Linked DNA regions of Homo sapiens: region 2 is linked to region 1. Evidence: fine-mapped expression QTL. A gene starts in region 1. The other region holds a variant in brackets. All regions are shown on one strand. Distances are from middle to middle.

Region 1 (9,746 bases):
TGCAGCATTTTTGTAATAGGAAAAGGTTAAAAACCATGTGAATGTCCATCAATAAGGGACAGGTGTCATCCCAGGGATGCTGGAATGATTTAACATATGCAAGTCAATAAATGTGATGTATCACATAAACAGAATTAAAAACAAAAACCATATGATCTCAACAGATGCAGAAAAAGCATTCAACAAAATCCAGCATCCTTTACAATAAAGAACTCAACAAATGAGGCATAGAAAGGACCTAACTCAAAATAATAAAAGCCATATATGACGACAAAGCCAACATCATACTGAATGGGGAAAAGTTGAAAGCATTCCCCCTGAGAACAGGAACAAGACAAGGACATCCACTTTCACCACTCCTATTCGACATAGTTCTGGAAGTATTAGCCAGAGGGAAAGTAGGGGAAAGCAATAAAGTGTATCCAAATTGGAAAAGAGGAAGTCAAACTATCACTGTTTGCAGATATTATGACTATATACCAAGGAAATCCTAAAGACTCCAACAGACTCTTAGATTTGATAAATGAAATCGGTAAAGTCTCAGGTTACAAAATCAATGTACACAAATCAGTAGCACTGCTATATACCAAAAACGTCCAAGCTGAGAATCAAATCAAGAGCTCAATCCCTTTTATAATAGCTGCAAAAATAAAAAATAAATAGAATACCTAGGAATATGCTTCACCAAGGAGATGACAGATCTCTACAAGGAGAACTACAAAATACTGCTGAAAGAAATCACAGATGACATAAATGGAAACTCATCCCATGCTCATGGATTGAAAGAATCAATATTGTGAAAATGACCATACTGCCCAAAGCAATCTACAGATTCAATGCGATTCCCATCAAAATACCAAGATCATTTTTCACAGAATTAGAAAAAACAATCCTAAAATTAATATGGAACAAAAAACAGCCTGAATAGCCAAAGCAATTCTAAGCAAAAAGACAAATCTGGAGACATCACATTACCAGACTTCAAATACACTACAAGCCTATAGCTACCACAACAGCATGGTACTGGTTTAAAAGTAGGCACATAGACCAATGGAACAAAATAGAGAACTCAGAAATAAAGCCAAATACATACAGCCAACTGCTCTTTGACAAAGCACACAAAAACAAAAATTGGGGAATGGACATCCTATTCAATAAATGATGCTGGGAAAACTGGCAAGCCACATGAAGAATGAAACTGGATCCCTAACTATCATCCAATGCAAAAATCAACTCAAGTTGATAAAAGATTTAAATATAAGACCTGAAACTATAAAAATTCTAGAACATTGGAAACAGTCTTCTAAACACTGGCCTAGGCAAAAAATTCATGACTAAGACCCCAAAAACAAACGCAACAAAAACAAAAATAAATAGATGGGACCTAATTAAACTAAAAAGCTTCGGCACAGCAAAACAAATAATCAACAGAGTAAACAGACCACCCACAGAATGGGAGAAAATATTTGCAAACTATGCATCCAACAAAGGACTAGTATCCAGAATCTACAAGGAACTCAAATCACAAAGAAAAAAAAACAATTGCATTAAAAACTGAGCAAAGGACATGAATAGACATTTCTCAAAAGATACACAAATGGCCAAAAAACATGAAATAATCATTAATAATTCAACATCATTAATCATCAGGGAAATGCAAATTAACCACAATGAGATACCACCGTGCTCCTACAGGAATGGTTATTCTTAAAAAGTCAAAAAATGGGCCGGGCGCGGTAGCCCCCATCTGTAATCCCAGCACTTTGGGAGGCCCAGACGGGCGATCACCTGAGGTTGGGAGTTTGAAACCAGCCTGACCAACATGGAGAAACCCGTCTCTACCAAAAATAACAAAATTAGCTGGGCATGGTGGCGTGTGACTGTAATCCCAGCTACTTGGGAGGCTGAGTCAGGAGAATTGCTTGAATCCGGGAGGCGGAGGTTGGGGTGAGCTGAGATCACGCCATTGCACTCCAGCCTGGCAACGAGAGCGAGACTCCATCTCAAAAAAAAAAAAAAAAAAAGTCAAAAAACAATAGATGTTGGTGTGGATGTGGGGAAAAGAGACCGCTTATTACACTACTATACAGCCTCTACAGAAAACAGTATGGAGACTCCTTGAAGAGCTAAAAAAGATCTACCATTCAATCCAGAAATTCCACTGCTGGGTATCTACCCAAAGGAAAGAAAGTCATTATATGAAAAAGACTTTTGCACATGTATATTTATAGCAGCACAACTCACAACTGCAAAGATGTGGAACCAATCTAAGTGCCCATCAACTGAGTGGATAAAGAAAATGTGGTATATATAAACCATGGAATACTACTCAGCCATTAAAAGGAACAAAATAATGTCTTTTGCAGCAACTTGGATGAAGCTGGAGGCCATTTTTCTAAGTGAAGTAATACAGGGGTGGAAAACCAAAAGCCGTATGTTCTCACTGTGTAAGTGGAAGCTAAGCTATGAGTATGCAAAGACATAGGTATGAAGTGATATAATGGACTTTAGAGACTCAGAAAGGGGAGGGTGAAAGGGGGCTAGGAATCAAAAACTACACATTAGGTACAATGTACATTACTTGGGTGACTAAAATCTCAGAATTCACCACCATATAATTCATCCATGTAACAAAAAACCACTTGTACTCCAAAAGCTGTTGAAATTTTATCTTTTTTTTTGGAGATGGAGTCTTGCTCTATCATCCAGGCTGGAGTGCAGTGGTGTGATCTCCACTCATTGCAACCTCCACCTCCCAGGTTCAAGCGATTCTCCTGTCTCAGCCTCCCGTGTAGCTGGGACGTGCCACCGCACCCGGCTAAATTTTGTATTTTTAGTACAGACAGGGTTTCATCATGTTGGCCAGGCTAGTCTCGAACTCCTGACCTCAGGTGATCCACCCACCTCGGCCTCCCAAAGTGCTGGGATTACAGGCGTGAGCCACTGTGCGGGGCCATTGCTTAAATTTTTAAAAAGGAGGGACAGGTGAAACAGATTATGGATAGCCATACAAGGAGGTGTTATGTGGTTATTAAAAATGAGGCAGCTTTTTCTTTTACCCATATATGAAACCATCTATAACACGTATTAATGAAAAAAAAAAAAGGCAAAGTGAAAAACTGCATAGTGTGCTGCCATTATGTGTAAAAAATGCACTGATTTTGACTTATAGAATATCCCTGAAAGGACACTCAAGGAAGTAGAAAACAGTGACTGCTTCCTGGATGAAGAGCTGGGACACAATGGAGAAGACTATTTACCTTTCTTTTTTCTTTTTTTGAGATGGAGTCTCGCTCTGTTGCCAGGCTGGAGTGCAGTGGCACGATCTCAGCTTACTGCAACCTCCGCCTCCGGGGTTCAAGAGATTCTTGTGCCTCAACCTCCTGAGTAGCTGGGACTACAGGCGCCTGCCACCACGCCCGGCTAATTTTTGTATTTTTAGTAGAGACGGGGTTTCACCGTGTTAGTCAGGATGGTCTCGATCTCCTGACCTCGTGATCCTCCCGCCTAGGCCTCCCAAAGTGCTGGGATTACAGGCGACAGCCACTGCGCCCGGCCGAGACTTACTTTTCAATGTACTTTAGCCCTTTTAGAATTGTACATATATCATTTATTCAAGAGGCAGATTTTAAACGTTTTTGTAAAAAGCTAAATAACACCCAGAGTGACTCAAAAAATTTCTCAACTTTGCCCAAGTGAATAGTAAGTCTAGAGTTTTTTGGGTTTTTTTTTTTTTTGTGACAGAGTTTCTCTCTGCCGCCCAGGCTGGAGTGCAGTGGCGATCTTGGCTCACTGCAACCTCTGCCTCCCGGGTTCAAGCGACTCTCCTGCCTCAGCCTCCAGAGTAGCTGGGATTACAGGCGCGCGCCACCACGCCCAGCTAATTTTTGTATTTTTAAGTAGAGACGGGGTTTCACCGTGTTGGTCAAGCTGGTCTCAAACTCCTCCTGACCTCGTGAATCTCTCGCCTCGGCCTCCCAAAGTGCTAGGATTACAGGAGTGAGCCACCGCGCTCGGGCTTTTTTTTTTTTTTTTTTAAACATTCTCTGTTAGCAATCACTTTTAAAAGACTAGAAAATCATTTTTGGTTTTCCAAACCACCTCCACCCAGTGAGTCAGTTAGTAAAAGGGCTGGGTCTCACCGTTTCTCATTGATGGCATGAAGCCCAGGAACCCAAGAGGCAGCTGTTGCAAATTTATGGGGGAAAAAATACACGAAACAGGAAGGGTGACTGAAGATACGCGCAACAGCGAATACAATTTTGCAAAACCGGCTTCTAGGTATGGTAGGATCATTTAAATCCGTCAGTGATGTGGAGAAAGAACATGGAGGCATGGCTAGTCCTCTGCACGGACAGGTAGGTAGCCAACCACCAGTGAGGACTGAAAGACAGTCCTCACTGAAAAGGACTGAAAGTTTGCAGTGGCCAAAATTATCTCTTTTACCTATTCAGTGCTTGAAACTCTTTCCTTGCCTGGAAGGTAACTCATTACACTCATCATCTAATTCGGACACATTTAGCAGATTAGCTGGCCATCAGCTGGCAAAAATCAGGGCGTTTACGGCAGTCGGAAGACAACAGCGTCATGTCTGTCACTTTACGGTGGACATCAGCCATCTACCTCTGCACCTTGGTTTCCTTGCGCAGTGTTTGCACAGGATGAGCTAATTTCAACACAGATTTGCTGCTGGTCGGGGAACAGCAATCAAATCTGGAATGCTATTCTAGAATAGCTTCCAAGAACTGTAAACGAGAACCAGTGTACGACCTTGGCCTGGCGCATTCTGTCCTACGGTTCACTAAACACAGTAAAAATTTCCCCAAGTTTCCCTAAATTCGCTGTGTCACCGGAAAGTACAGCCACTACCAGCCAGACGGCTTTCAGCACTGCCCGTGCGTTTCCCTACTCAGCCTCCCGCGAGGCAGCTGGGCCACGCTCCGGCCTCAGCCCCTCCACCTGCCCGAGGGCGGGGCGCCACTGGTCCCTGGGATTTCCAAACGGACGGAAGGGCTTCCCGTAAGCCAGGCCGGCCGCCTCACCCACGCCACCCCAACACACCCCGGCCGGCAGCCCGGCTACGAGACGCGCAAACCGAGTCGCCGCCATCCGGGAGGCCCACACTGCCCTCCAGCCGCGCCCCACTAGCACCGGGACAGCAGCGCCCAGAGCTGGCCGAGGGCAAGACCACCGAGGCAGACGAGGTGGGAAAGGGAGGGGGGCGCCGCTCCTCACCTGACCCCAGCAGCAGCGTCACAGCCCAACCCGGTCTCCCGCAAGATGGAGCCGGGGGCGGGCCCAGGGTGGGCGGGGCGTCTCGCGAGCCCGTTAGGATCGCGGCTGCAGCCGGGAACACCCCCGGAGCCGGAGAGGGCGCTGCGGGGAGCGGGCTGTCCCTCAGTCCCGCCCCTAGGCGCCACCTGAGGGAAAAAGACTCTCCCTTCGGGTGGCCCAGCGGATTTTTAATCACATTTATCTGTCGCAAGGACCCTGCACCAATCCCTTTTAAGGCTGCCTCAAGTCACCTAGGAAGTTGCAGCAGTCCTGGGGGTATCCGGGGCCCCTTCAGTGGCGGGCGGTAGAGAAGGGCTGAGACTGGGAGGCTGGTGCAGCCTCCCCGCCTCTGAAATACCGTCCTCCAGGTATTTTCTGGGGACAAAGACGGCGTTTTTTGTTAGCCTCCTGTGAAAGTAATATTTGTGGGAAATCTTAGTTGGAACTGTAGATGAACTAATCAAAATCACTCCCGAAAGGAGTTGTTAGGTGATTTTAGGCTCCCCTCGTGGCTACAGCATTGAACACACATTAGCATTAAACATTTGAGGCAATTACGAGGGCTCAGATCAATATTTTAAACTCGTTAAGGAATTTATATTACAGAGAAAACCAATCAGCTACCTTTTAGAGTGGTAAAAGGTAGCTTCTGGGTGTGGTCCCCCGAACAGCAGCATCACCTGGAAACGTGTTAGTAACGCAGATTATTGAACTCCACCTTAGACCTACTGAATCAAACTCCCCGGGTGGTGCCCAGCAACCTGTTTTAACAAGCCTTCCAGGTGGTTCTGATGCACACTAAAGTTTGCACATCTGATGCACATCAACTTACTTATTCCTCTACACACTTTTCTACCCAAAAGCTTCCTCATGGGGGTGGAATAGAGTGGATTACGATTTTAAATGGGAAGAGCAAGCAAAATATACGTGGCTTCCAAATAGGTGTGTGGAGTGAAAAGTATTTGAGGCAGGTCATTGCCTCATTTAACAATGGTAGACAAAATGCACAACTCTCTAGGTGACCAGCATTAATTCCCCGGCGCCCAACAGTCTGTCTACCTGGAAAATAACAGGACTTTCTGTCCTACCTACCCCAGAGACCTCCAGGATTTAAGCCTTCCCTGAGAAGCCTACTCTGTTCATTCTAGAGTTCCCTTTGTGAGCTCGTTCCAAACCCTCCCTCTGCCTTAAATACCACCATAACAGGGTATTTGCCAAACCTCTTATTTCCAGCCCACTTTCCTGAGCTGCAGGAATAGTCCAATAGTCTACTACGACATTTGCCATTTCATCCTTTCAATTCATCCTTTCTTCCTGGCATAAAAGGCGTTACAGGATCGGAGACCCTTTCCTCCTGCTACCTCTGCTTAGAAAGCACTGCTCATCTTTTAACAATTACTCATCTTAATTAGACTTGTTTTCAAGGTTGCTCATCTCCGTCTTGCTCCAATAAACTCTTCCTGATCTTCTTTTTTGTACTCAACTGGACCATTTTAATTTTTTAATTTTTTTGGAGACAGAGTCTTGCTCTGTCACCCAGGCTGGAGTGCTGTGGTGCGATCTAGGCTCACTGCAACCTCTGCCTCCGGGGTTCAAGCGATTCTCATGCCTCAGCCTCCCGTGTAGCTGGGAGGCATGTCACCACGCCCAGCTAATTTTTTTGTATTTTTAGTACAGATGGGGTTTCGCCATGTTGGCCAGGCTGGTCTCGAACTCCTGGCCTCAAGCGATCCACCTGCCTCAGCCTCCCAAAGTGCTGGATGTATTACAGGCATGAGCCACCATACCTGGTCAACATCTCTGAAGGCCATGGTATGTTCCAGAGTTCATGTGAAATAAGAGCCATCATGCTTCTAATGTGAACATCCCACTGTATCAGAGTCTGGTTTTTTTTTGTTTGTTTTTGTAGTTTTGAGACAGGGTCTCATTCTGTTGCCCAGGCTGGAGTGCAATGGCACAATCTCAGCTCATTGCAACCTCTGCTTCCCAGGTTCAACGAATTCTCCTGCCTCAGCCTCCCAAGTAGCTGGGATTACAGGCATCCGCCACCACGCCCAGCTTTTTTTTTTTTTTTTTTTTTTTTTTTTTTTGAGACAGAGTCTCACTCTGTTGCCCAGGCTGGATGGAATGCAGTGGCACGATCTCGGCTCACTGCAAGCTCTGCCTCCTGGGTTCACGCCATTCTCCTGCCTCAGCCTCCCGAGTAGCTGGGACTACAGGTGTCTACCACCACGCCTGGCTAATTTTTTGTATTTTTAGTAGAGACAGGGTTTCACTGTGTTAGCCAGGATGGTCTCGATCTCCTGACCTCATGACCCACCCGCCTCAGCCTCCCAAAGTGCTAGGATTACAGGCATGAGCCACCACGTCCGGCCTAAATTTTTATATTTTTAATACAGACGGTGATTTGCCATGTTGCCCAGGCGAACTCCTGACCTCAGGTGATCCACCCACCTCGGCCTCCCAAAGTGCTGGGATTATTACAGGTGTGAGCCACCACGCCTGGCCCAGAGTCTGGTATTTAAGTTCATATCCTTTTTGTTCCATTAGAATAGTAATTTTGTCCCTCAGGGACACCTGACAATGTGTGGAGACATCTTTGTTTGTCACAACTGAGGGGAGGTGGTGGGGTTACTAGCATCTAGTGGGTGAAAGCCAAGGATTCTAAACAAGGTACGTATCCTACAATGCCTACAGTCCCTACACAAAGAATTATTCAGCCCAAAAAGTCAATAGTGCTGAGGTTAAGAAACCCTGAGTCAGAGTGATCTTTCTAAAGAATAAATTGGGTCATGTAATTCCCGTGATTAAACTTTTTTAATAGCTTCCCACTGGAACCAGAATAAAATAAAATCCAAACTCCTGATGGTCTATTAAGCCCTAGATAATCTGGTCCCTGCCTACATCGCTCATCTAATCCCTTTTCACTTTTTTTTTTTTTTTTTTGAGACGGAGTCTTGCTCTGTCGCCCAGGCTGGAGTGCGGTGGTGCAATCTCAGCTCACTGCAAGCTTCGCCTCCCAGGTTCACACCATTCTCCTGGCTGAACCTCCCAAGTAGCTGGGACTAAAGGTGACTGCCACCACGCCCAGCTAATTTTTTTGTATTTTTAGTAGAGACGGGGTTTCACCATGTTAGCCAGGATGGTCTTGATCTCCTGACCTCGTGATCCACCTGCCTCGGCCTCCCAAAGTGCTGGGATTACAGGCGTGAGCCACGGCGCCTGGCCTTCACTTTCCTTAATCACTAACCTCTGAACACAGTGGCCTTCGGTCCAAACATACCAAGCTTGTGACCAAATGCACCAGATTCTCAGGACCTTGGCACTTGCTATTGCTTCTACTGGGAATGTTCTCCATGGTGTCATCTCAAATGTGGTCTCCTGGCTGGGTGAGTTGGCTCACACCTATAATCCTAGCACTTTGGGAGGCCCAAGGCAGGCAGATCACTGAAACCCAGGAGTTGGAGACCAGCCTGGGCAACATGGCGAGACCCCATCTCTACAAAAAACACAAAAATTAGTCAGGCATAGTAGTGTGCACTTGTAATCCATCTACTTAGGAGGCTCACAGGGGAGAATCACTTGAACCTGGGAGGCAGAGGCTGTAGTAAGCCAAGATCTCACTACTGCACTCCAGCCTGGGTGACAGAGCCTGACCCTATCTCAAAAAAACAAACAAAAAATGTCATCTCCTCAAGGTATTTCCTGAACATTAGTAGCTGCCACCAGCACAACCACCACTAGCAGCTATGCTCATTATTTAATTTTCCTTATACCACTTAAAAGCATCTGAAATTCTGGCCGGGCGCGGTGGCTCACGCCTGTAATCCCAGCACTTTGGGAGGCCGAGGCGGGCGGATCACGAGGTCAGGAGATCGAGACCATCCCGGCTAAAAACGGTGAAACCCCGTCTCTACTAAAAATACAAAAAATTAGCCGGGCGTAGTGGCGGGCGCCTGTAGTCCCAGCTACTTGGGAGGCTGAGGCAGGAGAATGGCGTGAACCCGGGAGGCGGAGCTTGCAATGAGCCGAGATCCCGCCACTGCACTCCAGCCTGGGCGACAGAGCGAGACTCCGTCTCAAAAAAAAAAAAAAAAAAAAAAAAAAAAAAAAAAAAAGCATCTGAAATTCTGTGTGTTTACTGTTTCTGTCCCCATCTAGAATGTAAGCTCCTTGAGAACAGGGATATCTTTAGAGCCTAGTAGTGAGTGTTTGATAAATAATTGATTGTCTGATTGACTACAATAGGGCCCCCAAAACCCAAGCCAACTACTTCGTCTGGTGATCAGCCAAATACAGATTTATTTCCAGCACTGGGAAAAACTGGCTCTGATAGACCTACTGAGAGAACCCATGTGCTACCCTAAAGGATTTTCAAAGGTAGTTTTGAAAATTTTTTTTCATTTCATATGCTGACTTTAGAAAACATAACTCCATTATATTGTCCTTGCTTATGTCAGTCTCCTATAAGG
Region 2 (9,746 bases), 390 kb before region 1:
ATTATTCCAAAAGATTGAGAACGAATCTTTCCTTAACTCATTTTATGAAGCCAGCATCATCATTCTGATACCAAAACTCATCACAGACATAATGAAAAAAGAAAACTTCAGGCTGATATTCCTGATGAACACAGACACAAAATACTCAAAAAAATACTAGAAAACAAAACCTAGCAGCACATCAAAAAGTTAATTTACTATAATCAATTAGGCTTTATTTGTGGGGTGCAAGGTTGGTTCAATAAATGTAATTCACCACATAAACAGAATTAAAAACCATATGATCATCTCTGCAAATGCAGAAAAAGCTTTCAAAAAAATTCAGCATCCTGGCCAGGCACAGTGGCTCACACCTGTAATTCCAGCACTTTGGGAGGCCAAAGTGGATGGATCACCTGAGGTCAGGAGTACGAGACCAGCCTGGCCAACATGGTAAAACCCTGTCTCTACTAAAAATATAAAAATTAGCTGGGCATGGTGGCAGGGGCCTGTAATCCCAGTTACACAGGAGGCTGAGGCAGGAGAACTGCATTAACCCAGGAGGTGGAGGTTGCAGTGAGCCAAGATCACACCACTGCACTCCAGCCTGGGCAAGAGAGTAAGACTACATCTCAAGAAAAAACAAACAAAAAAACCCAAAAATAACAGACACTGGCAAGGATGAAGAGAAAGGGGCATGCTCATACACTGCTGGTGGGAATGTAAATTAGTACAATCACTATGGAGAACAGTACAGAGGTTCCCTTAAAAACTAAAAATAGATCTACCATATGATCCAGCAATCCCAGTGCCAAGTATATATCCAAAAGAAAGGAAATTAGCATGATGAAGAGATATCCGCATTCCCATGTTTATTGCAGGACTATTCACAACAGCTAACATATGGAATCAACCTAAGTGTCCATCAACAGATGAATGGATAAAGAAAATGTGGTGCTTATATATAATGAAACACTATTCAGCCATAAGAAGAATGTAATCTTATCACATGGATGGAACTGGAGTTCATTATATTAGTAAAATAAGCCCAGCATAGACAAATATCACATGTTCTCACTCACATGTGGGATTTCTGCATTTCCAACTGAGGTACCTGGTTCATCTCATTGGGACTGGTTGGACAGTGGGTGCAGACCATAGAGAATGAGCCAAAGCAGGGCGGGGCATCGCCTCACCCAGGAAGCACAAGGAGTCAGGGAATTTCCCTTTCCTAGCAAAGGGAAGCCATGACAGACTGTACCTGGAAAAACCGGACAATCCTGCCCACATACTGCGCTTTTCCCACAGTCTTAGCAACTGGCAGACCAGGAGATTCTTTCCTGTGCCTGGCTCAGTGGGTCCCATGCCCATGGAGCCTTGCTCACTGCTAGTGCAGCAGTCTGAGATGGACCTGAGAGGTTGCAGCCTGGCTGGAGGAGGGGTGTCCACCATTGCTGAGGCTTGATTAGGTAAACAAAATGGCCAGAAAGCTCAAACTGGGCGGAGCCCACCACAGCTCAGCAAGGCCTACTGCCTCTGTAGACTCCACCTCTGTGGGCAGGGCATAGCTGAACAAAAGCCAGCAGACAACTTCTGCAGACTTAAACGTCCCTGTCTGACAGCTCTGAAGAGAGCAGTGGTTCTCCCAGGATGGCATTTGAGCTCTGAGAACCAAAGACTGCCTCCTCAAGAGGGTCCCTGACCCCCGTGTAGCCTAACTGGGGGAAACCTCCCAGTAGGGGCCGACAGACACCTCATACAGGCGGGTGCCCCTCTGGGATGAAGCTTCCAGAGGAAGGATCAGGCAGCAATATTTGCTGTTCTGCATCCTCTGCTGGTGATACCCAGGCAAACAGCGTCTGGAATGGACCTCCAGCAAACTCCAACAGACCTGCAGCTGAGGGACCTGACTGTTAGAAGGAAAACTAACAGAAAGGAATAGCATCAACATCAACAAAAAGGTCATCTACACCAAAACCCCATCTGTAGGTCACCAACATCGAAGGCCAAAGGTAGACAAAACCACAAAGATGGGGAGAAACCAGAGCAGAAAAGCTGAAACTTCTAAAGATCAGAGCACCTCCTCTCCTCCAAAGGACTGCAGCTCCTCACAAGCAACAGAACAAAGCTGGACAGAGAATGACTTTGATGAGCTGACAGAAGTAGGCTTCAGAAGGTCGGTAATAACAAACCTCCCAGCTAAAGAAGCATGTTCTAAGCCATCGCAAGGAAGCTAAAACCCTTGAAAAAAGGTTAGACGAATGGCTAACTAGAACAAACAGTGTAGAGAAGACCTTGAATGACCTGATGGAGCTGAAAACCATGGCATAAGAACGTCATGGTGCATGCACAAGCTTCGGTAGCCGATTTGATCAAGTGGAACAAAGGGTATCAGTGATTGAAGATGGAATTAATGAAATAAAGCAAGAAGACAAGTTTAGAGAAAAATGAGTAGAAAGAAACAAATAAAGCCTCCAAGAAATATGGGACTATCTAAAAAGACCAAATCTATGTTTGATTGGTGTACACCTGAAAGTGACGGGGAGAATGGAAACAGGCTGAAAAACACTATTCAGGAAATTATCCAGGAGAATTTCCCCAACCTAGCAAGGCAGGCCAACAGTCAAATTCAGAAATACAGAGAACACCACAAAGATACTTCTCGAGAAGAGCAACCACAAGACACGTAATTGTCAGATTCACCAAGGCTGAAATGAAGGAAAAAATCTTAAGGGCAGCCAGAGAGAAAGGTCGGGTTACCCACAAAGGGAGGCCCATCAGACTAACAGTGGATCTCTCTGCAGAAACCCTACAAGCAAGAAGAGAGTGGGGGCCAATATTCAACATTCTTAAAAAAAAGAATTTTCAACCCAGAATTTCATATCCAGCCAAACTAAGCTTTCTAAATAAAGGAGAAATAAAATCCTTTGCAGACAAGCAAATGCTGAGAGATTTTGTCACCACCAGGCCTGTCTTACAAGAGCTCCTGAAGGAAGCACTAAACATGGAAAGGAACAACTGGTACCAGCCACTGCAAAAACATGCCAAATTATAAAGACCATCGATGCTATGAAGAAACCGCATCAATTAACGAGCAAAATAACCAGCGAACATCATAATGACAGGATCAAATTCACATATAACAATATTAGCCTTAAATGTAAATGGGCTAAATGTCCCAATGAAAAGGCACAGACTGGCAAATTGGATAAAGAGTCAAGACCCATCAGGAGACACATCTCATGTGCAGAGACACACATAGGCTCAAAATAAAGGGATGGAGGAAGATCTACGAAGCAAATGGAAAGAAAAAAAAAAAAAAAAGCAGCGGCTGCAATCCTAGTCTCTGATCAAACAGACTTTAAACCAACACAGATCAAAAGAGACAAAGAAGGCCATTACGTAATGGTATAGGGATCAATTCAACAAGAAGTGCTAACTATTCTAAATATATATGCACCCAATACAGGGGCACCCAGATTCATAAGGCAAGTCCTTAGAGTCCTAAAAAGAGACTTAGACTCTCACACAATAATAATGAGAGACTTTAACACTCCACTGTCAATATGAGATCAACAAGACAGAAGGTTAACAAGAATATCCAGGACTGGAACTCAGCTCTGCACTAAGCAGACCATTATAATAGACATCTACAGAACTCTGTCCACCCCAAATCAACAGAATATACATTCTTCTCAGCACCACATCACACTTATTCTAAAACTGACCACATAATTGGAAGTAAAGCACTCCTCAGCAAATGTAAAAGAACAGAAATCACAACAAACTGTCTCTCAGACCACAGTGCAATCAAATTAGAACTCAGGATTAAGAAACTCACTCAAAACCACACAACTACATGGAAACTGAACAACCTGCTCCTGAATGACTACTGGGTAAATAACGAAATGAAGGCAGAAATAAACATGTTCTTTGAAACCAATGAGAACAAAGACACAACGTAC[C/A]AGAATCTCTGGGACACATTTAAAGCAGTGTAGAGGAAAATTTATAGCACTAAATGCCCACAAGAGAAAGCAAGAAAGACCTAAAATCGACACCCTAACATCACAATTAAAAGAACAAGAGAAGCAAGAGCAAACAAATTCAAAAGCTAGCAGAAGGCAAGAAATAACTCAGATCAAAGCAGAACTGAAAGAGATACAGACATAAAAAACCCTTCAAAAAATCAATGAATCCAGGAGCTGGTTTTTTGAAAAGATCAACAAAATTGATAGACAGCTAGCAAGACTAATAAAGAAGAAAAGAGAGAATAATCAAATAGACACAGTAAAAAATGATAAAGGGGATATCACCACAGATCCCACAGAAATACAAACTACCATCAGAGAATACTATAAACACCTCTATGCAAATAAACTAGAAAATCTAGAAGAAATGGATAAATTCCTGGACACATACACCCAAGACCAAACCAGGAAGAAGTTGAATCTCTGAATAGAAAAATAACAGACTCTGAAATTGAGGCAATAACAGCCTACCAACTAAAAAAAGTTCAGGACCAGATGGATTCACAGCCGAATTCTATCAGAGGTACTAAGAGGAGCTGGTACCATTCCTTCTGAAACTATTCCAATCAACAGAAAAAGAGGGAATCCTCCCTAACTCATTTTATGAGGCCAGTATCATCCTGATACCAAAGCCTGGCAGAGACACAACAAAAAAAGAGAATTTTAGGCCAATATCGCTGATGAACATCGACGCAAAAATCCAACCGAATCCAGCAGCACATCAAAAAGCTTATCCACCACAATCAAGTCAGCTTCATCCCTGGGATGCAAGGCTGGTTCAACATACACAAATCAATAAACGTAATCCATCACATAAACAGAACCAATGACAAAAACCACATGATTATCTCAATAGATGCAGAAAAGGCCTTTGACAAAATTCAACAGCCCTTCATGCTGAAAATGCGGTAAACTAGGTATTGATGGAACATATCTCAAAATAATAAGAGCTATTTATGACAAACCCACAGCCAATATCATACTGAATGGGCAAAAACTGGAAGCACTGTTTGAAATCCGGCACAAGACAAGGATACCCTCCCTCACCACTCCTATTCAACATAGTGTTGGAAGTTCTGGCCAGGGCAATAAGGCAAGAGAAAGAAATAAAGGGTATTCAATTAGGAAAACAGGAAGTCAAATTGTCCCTGTTTGCAGATGACATGATTGTATATTTAGAAAACCCCATTGTCTCAGCCCAAAATCTCCTTAAGCTGATAAGCAACTTCAGCAAAGTCTCAGGATACAAAATCAATGTGCAAAAATCACAAGCATTCCTATATACCAATAACAGACAGAGAGCCAAATCATGAGTGAACTCCCATTCACAATTGCTACAAAGAGAATAAAATACCTAGGAATCCAACTTACAAGGGATGTGAAGAACCTCTTCAAGGAGAACTACAAACCACTGCTCAACGAAATAAAAGAGGACACAAATGGAAGAACATTCCATGCTCATGGATAGGAAGAATCAATATCGTGAAAATGGCCATACTGCCCAAGGTAATTTACAGATTCAATGCCATCCCCATCAAGCTACCAATGACTTTCTTCACAGAATTGGAAAAATCTACTTTAAAGTTCATATGGAACCAAAAAAGAGCCCACATAGCCAAGACAATCCTAAGCCAAAAGAACAAAGCTGGAGGCATCATGCTACCTGACTTCAAACTATACTACAAGGCTACAGTAACCAAAATAGCATAGTACTGGTACCAAAACAGAGACATAGACCAATAGAACAGAACAGAGGCCTCAGAAATAACAACACACATCTACAACCATCTGATCTTTGACGAACCTGACAAAAACAAGAAATGGGGAAAGGATTCCCTATTTAATAAACGGTGCTGGGAAAACTGGCTAGCCATATGTAGAAAGCTGAAACTGGATCCCTTCCTTACACTTTATATAACAATTAATTCAAGATGGATTAAAGACTTAAATGTTAGACCTAAAACCATAAAAACCCTAGAAGAAAACCTAGGCAATACCATTCAGGACATAGGCATGGGCAAGGACTTCATGACTAAAACACCAAAAGCAATGGCTACAAAAGCCAAAATATACAAGTGGGATCTAATTAAACTAAAGAGCTTCTGCATGGCAAAAGAAACTACCATCAGAGTGAACAGGCAACCTACAGAATGGGAGAAAATTTTTGCAATCTACCCATCTGACAAATGGCTGATATCCAGATCTACAAAGAACTTAAATTTACAAGAAAAAAACAACCCCATCAAAAAGTGGGCAAAGGATATGAACAGACACTTCTCAAAAGAAGACATTTATGCAGCCAACAGGCACATGAAAAAATGCTCATCATCACTGGTCATAAGAGAAATGCGAAGCAAAACCACAATGAGATACCATCTCATGCCAGTTAGAATGGCAATCATTAAAAAGTGAGGAAACAACAGATGCTGGAGAGGATGTGGAGAAATAGGAATGCTTTTACACTGTTGGTGGGAGTGTAAATTAGTTCAGCCATTGTGGAAGACAGTGTGGTGATTTCTCAAGGATCCAGAAGTAGAAATACCATTTGACCCAGCAATCCCATTACTGGGTAAATACCCAAAGGATTATAAATCATGCTACTATAAAGACACATATACACGTATGTTTACTGTGGCACTATTCACAATAGCAAAGACTTGGAACCAACCCAAATGTCCATCAATAATAGACTGGATTAAGAAAATGTGGCACATGTACACCATGGAATACCATGCAGCCATAAAAAAGGATGAGTTCATGTCCTTTGCAGGGACATGGATGAAGCTGGAAACCATCATTCTCAGCAAACTCTCACAAGGACAGAAAACCAAACACCACATGTTCTCACTCATAGGTGGAAATTGAACAATGAGAACACTTGGACACAGGGCAGGGAACATCACACACCGGGGCCTGTCGGAGGGTGGGGGGCTGGGGGAGGAATAGCATTAGGAGAAATACCTAATGTAAATGATGAGTTGATGGGTGCAGCAAACCAACATGGCACATGTATACCTATGTAACAAACCTGCACGTTGTGCACATGTACCCTAGAACTTAAAGTATAAAAAAAAAAAAAGGGAAGGAAGGAAGGAAAGAAGGGAGTCAGGGAGGGGGAGGGGGGAGGGAGAGAGGAAGGAAGGAAGTAAAGAAATAAAGAGGGTGGGAGGGAGGAAGAGAGAGAAGAAAGAAAGGAAAGGAGGGAAGGATGGATGCAGGGAGGGAGGGAAGGGAAGGAAGGAAGGAAGGAAGCAAGCAAACATGGAAGGAAGGAAATATGGAAGGAAGGAAGGGAGAGAGAGAGGAAGGAAGGGAGGGAGAGAGGAGGGGAGGGAGGGAGAGAGGGAGGGAGGGAGGGACAGAGGGAGGGAGGGAAGAATCAGAAATCATAGCCAGTGAAACCCAGGAAAACCATTAGGCAGGAATCAGGACGATACCTTATTCAGGTTTGCATTCCCAACATTTAGCACCACATGTATCAAAAATGTTGTTGGATGAATACTGAACAACAGTCAAACACTGAATAAACCTGGCAGGTGTGCATCACAGGGGAGGGCACAGTGTTACTGGACTCTGAGTGGGTTGCTGTTTTTCATGCCAAGTCATGATAGGATTCAGTGTGTTGGGTGAACACAGTTTTATGAATCTCACTTTTAAAAAACTGCAAGCGTTATAAATAAAAGCTTTCATAATTTTGAGATAGGAAAAAAAAACAGAAGAAAAGACCACGTGTTCTGACAAAGACGGAGTAGGATGGCATCAAACCGTGTCACTGTAAAACACACACACACACACACACACACACACACACACACACAAAATACATTTTTAAAACTTAATTAGAAAAAGGGAATTAACTGTCTTTAAGAATACATTTTGGTCTTCTGATAAATTAACAGTTTATTTATTTATTTATTTCTGAAACAGAGTTTTGCTCTCGTTGCCCAGGCTGGAGTGCAATGGCGCAATCTCAGCTCACCGCAACCTCCACCTCCTGGGTTCAAGCAATTCTCCTACCTCAGCCTGCCGAGTAGCTGGAATTACAGTCATGTGCCACCACGCCCAGCTAATTTTTTTGTATTTTTTAGTAGAGACGGGGTTTCTCCATGTTGGTCAGGCTGGTCTCGAACTCCTGACTTCAGGTGATCCACCTGGCTCGGCCTCCCAAAATGCTGGGATTACAGGCATGAGCCACCAGACCCGGACAACAGTTTATTATTTAAAGTTGAAAAGAGGCCAGACACAGTGGCTCATGCCTGTAATCCCAACACTTTGGGAGGCCAAGGCAGGCAGATCACTTGAGGCCAGGAGTTCAAGACCAGCCTGGCCAACATGGTGAAACCCCATCTCTACTAAAAATACAAAAATTAGCTAGCCGTGGCGGCATGTGCCTGTGGTCCCAGCTACCTGGGAGGCTGAGGCAGGAGAATCACTTGAGCCCAGGAAGCAGAGGTCGCACTGATCCAAGATTGCACCACTGCACTCCAGTGAGACTGTCTCAAAAAGAAAAAGAAAGGTTGAAAAGAAGCAAAAGTATCACCTTTCTAATGAATTTATGAGCTGCATATTGACTGCATCTGTCTTAGAATTTTGCAACCAGGCCAGGCACAGTGCCTCACGCCTGTGTAATCCCAGCACTTTGGGAGGCCAAGGCAGGTGGATCACTTGAGGTCAGGAGTTCAAGAGCAGCCTGGCCAACATGGTGAAACCCCGTCTCTACTAAAAATACAAAATTAGCTCAGTGTGGTGGCGCATGCCTGTAATCCCAGCTACTTGGGAGGCTGAGGCAGGAGAATCGCTTGAACCAGGAGACAGGGGTTGTAGTGAGTCGAGATCATGTCACTGCACTCCAGCTTGGGCCACAGAGCCAGACTCAGACTCCATCTCAAAAAAAAAAAAAAAAAAAAAATTGCAACCAGAAAGGCTAAAATAAAGGCATTGGTTTTTTTAGTGCACATTTTGATAACTTCAAAAAAAAAATCTAATACAGAAAAGGGAACTCAAATATTTTAAAAAGTATTTTTCTACAGGAAAAGACTAAGGAATAGTAAATAACGCTGACAAAGGGGAAGACTAAGCTGTTTCTTTTCTCTGGTTTATAGGCCTATGCTTAGTTTTTTTTTTTTACTATTGAAACCAAGTGAGATTATTATACATGGATTTTATGTTTATTCCCTATAACTAACATTCCTATATATACCTGTTTACTACAGATATTTTGAGTCAAGTTGTGATTATGACGGAGTGAAGAAGAATTATTTTGGGACAGCTACTTTTGATGACAAATGATTTATAGACATAAAAGTAACAGAAAAAGAGAAGTGATGAAAAAAGTCCTATGTTTCACTATTACAAATAAAGGAAAACTGTTTGCTTAAAAATAAATAAATAAAAAGGAAAAAAACCCACTATTTTTTAAAACCCACCCTGGCCACTTGACAGGCAAAGTGAGGCCTGGGGGATAGAAAAAAAATTACAGTGTACTTAGTAAGTATTAGTGATCTATATTTTTCATTTCCCTAGATAAGAGTTTTCATGTTTTGACAAGAAATTTAAAAGTCACAGAACAATCACAATTTTTCCCATTATTAAAATCACTTTGCATGGTTGCAGCTTACAGGGTCACTTTTTAAGGTCCCAAACTATCATGCAAATTGAGGACTGCCTGTTCAGTGTCAGGAAATCTCCTCTCAAGCATCTCCTGAAGTGTAAAAATGACTTAAGGATAATGTGATTACC

What was found. PIP is the estimated chance that this variant, and not a neighbour inherited with it, causes the effect.
Region 2: its variant is the best candidate, but not a certain one, in a credible set for the expression of ANXA7 in whole blood (INTERVAL, PIP 0.80).

Annotation. Positions count from the first base shown.
Region 1 is chr10:73,408,777-73,418,522 of GRCh38, forward strand. It overlaps ANXA7 (annexin A7), which reads right to left and starts at 5,282. Exons shown (of 13, transcript NM_001156.5): 1 at 5,236-5,282. RefSeq lists silencers at 1,755-1,962, 4,906-5,465 and enhancers at 4,296-4,415, 4,426-4,505.
Region 2 is chr10:73,020,522-73,030,267 of GRCh38, forward strand. The region is part of intron 10 of P4HA1 (prolyl 4-hydroxylase subunit alpha 1); the gene reads right to left. Among named protein-coding and RNA genes, the nearest start is that of PLA2G12B, 71 kb to the left of the region's middle. The variant C/A (reference allele first, on the strand shown) is at 3,945.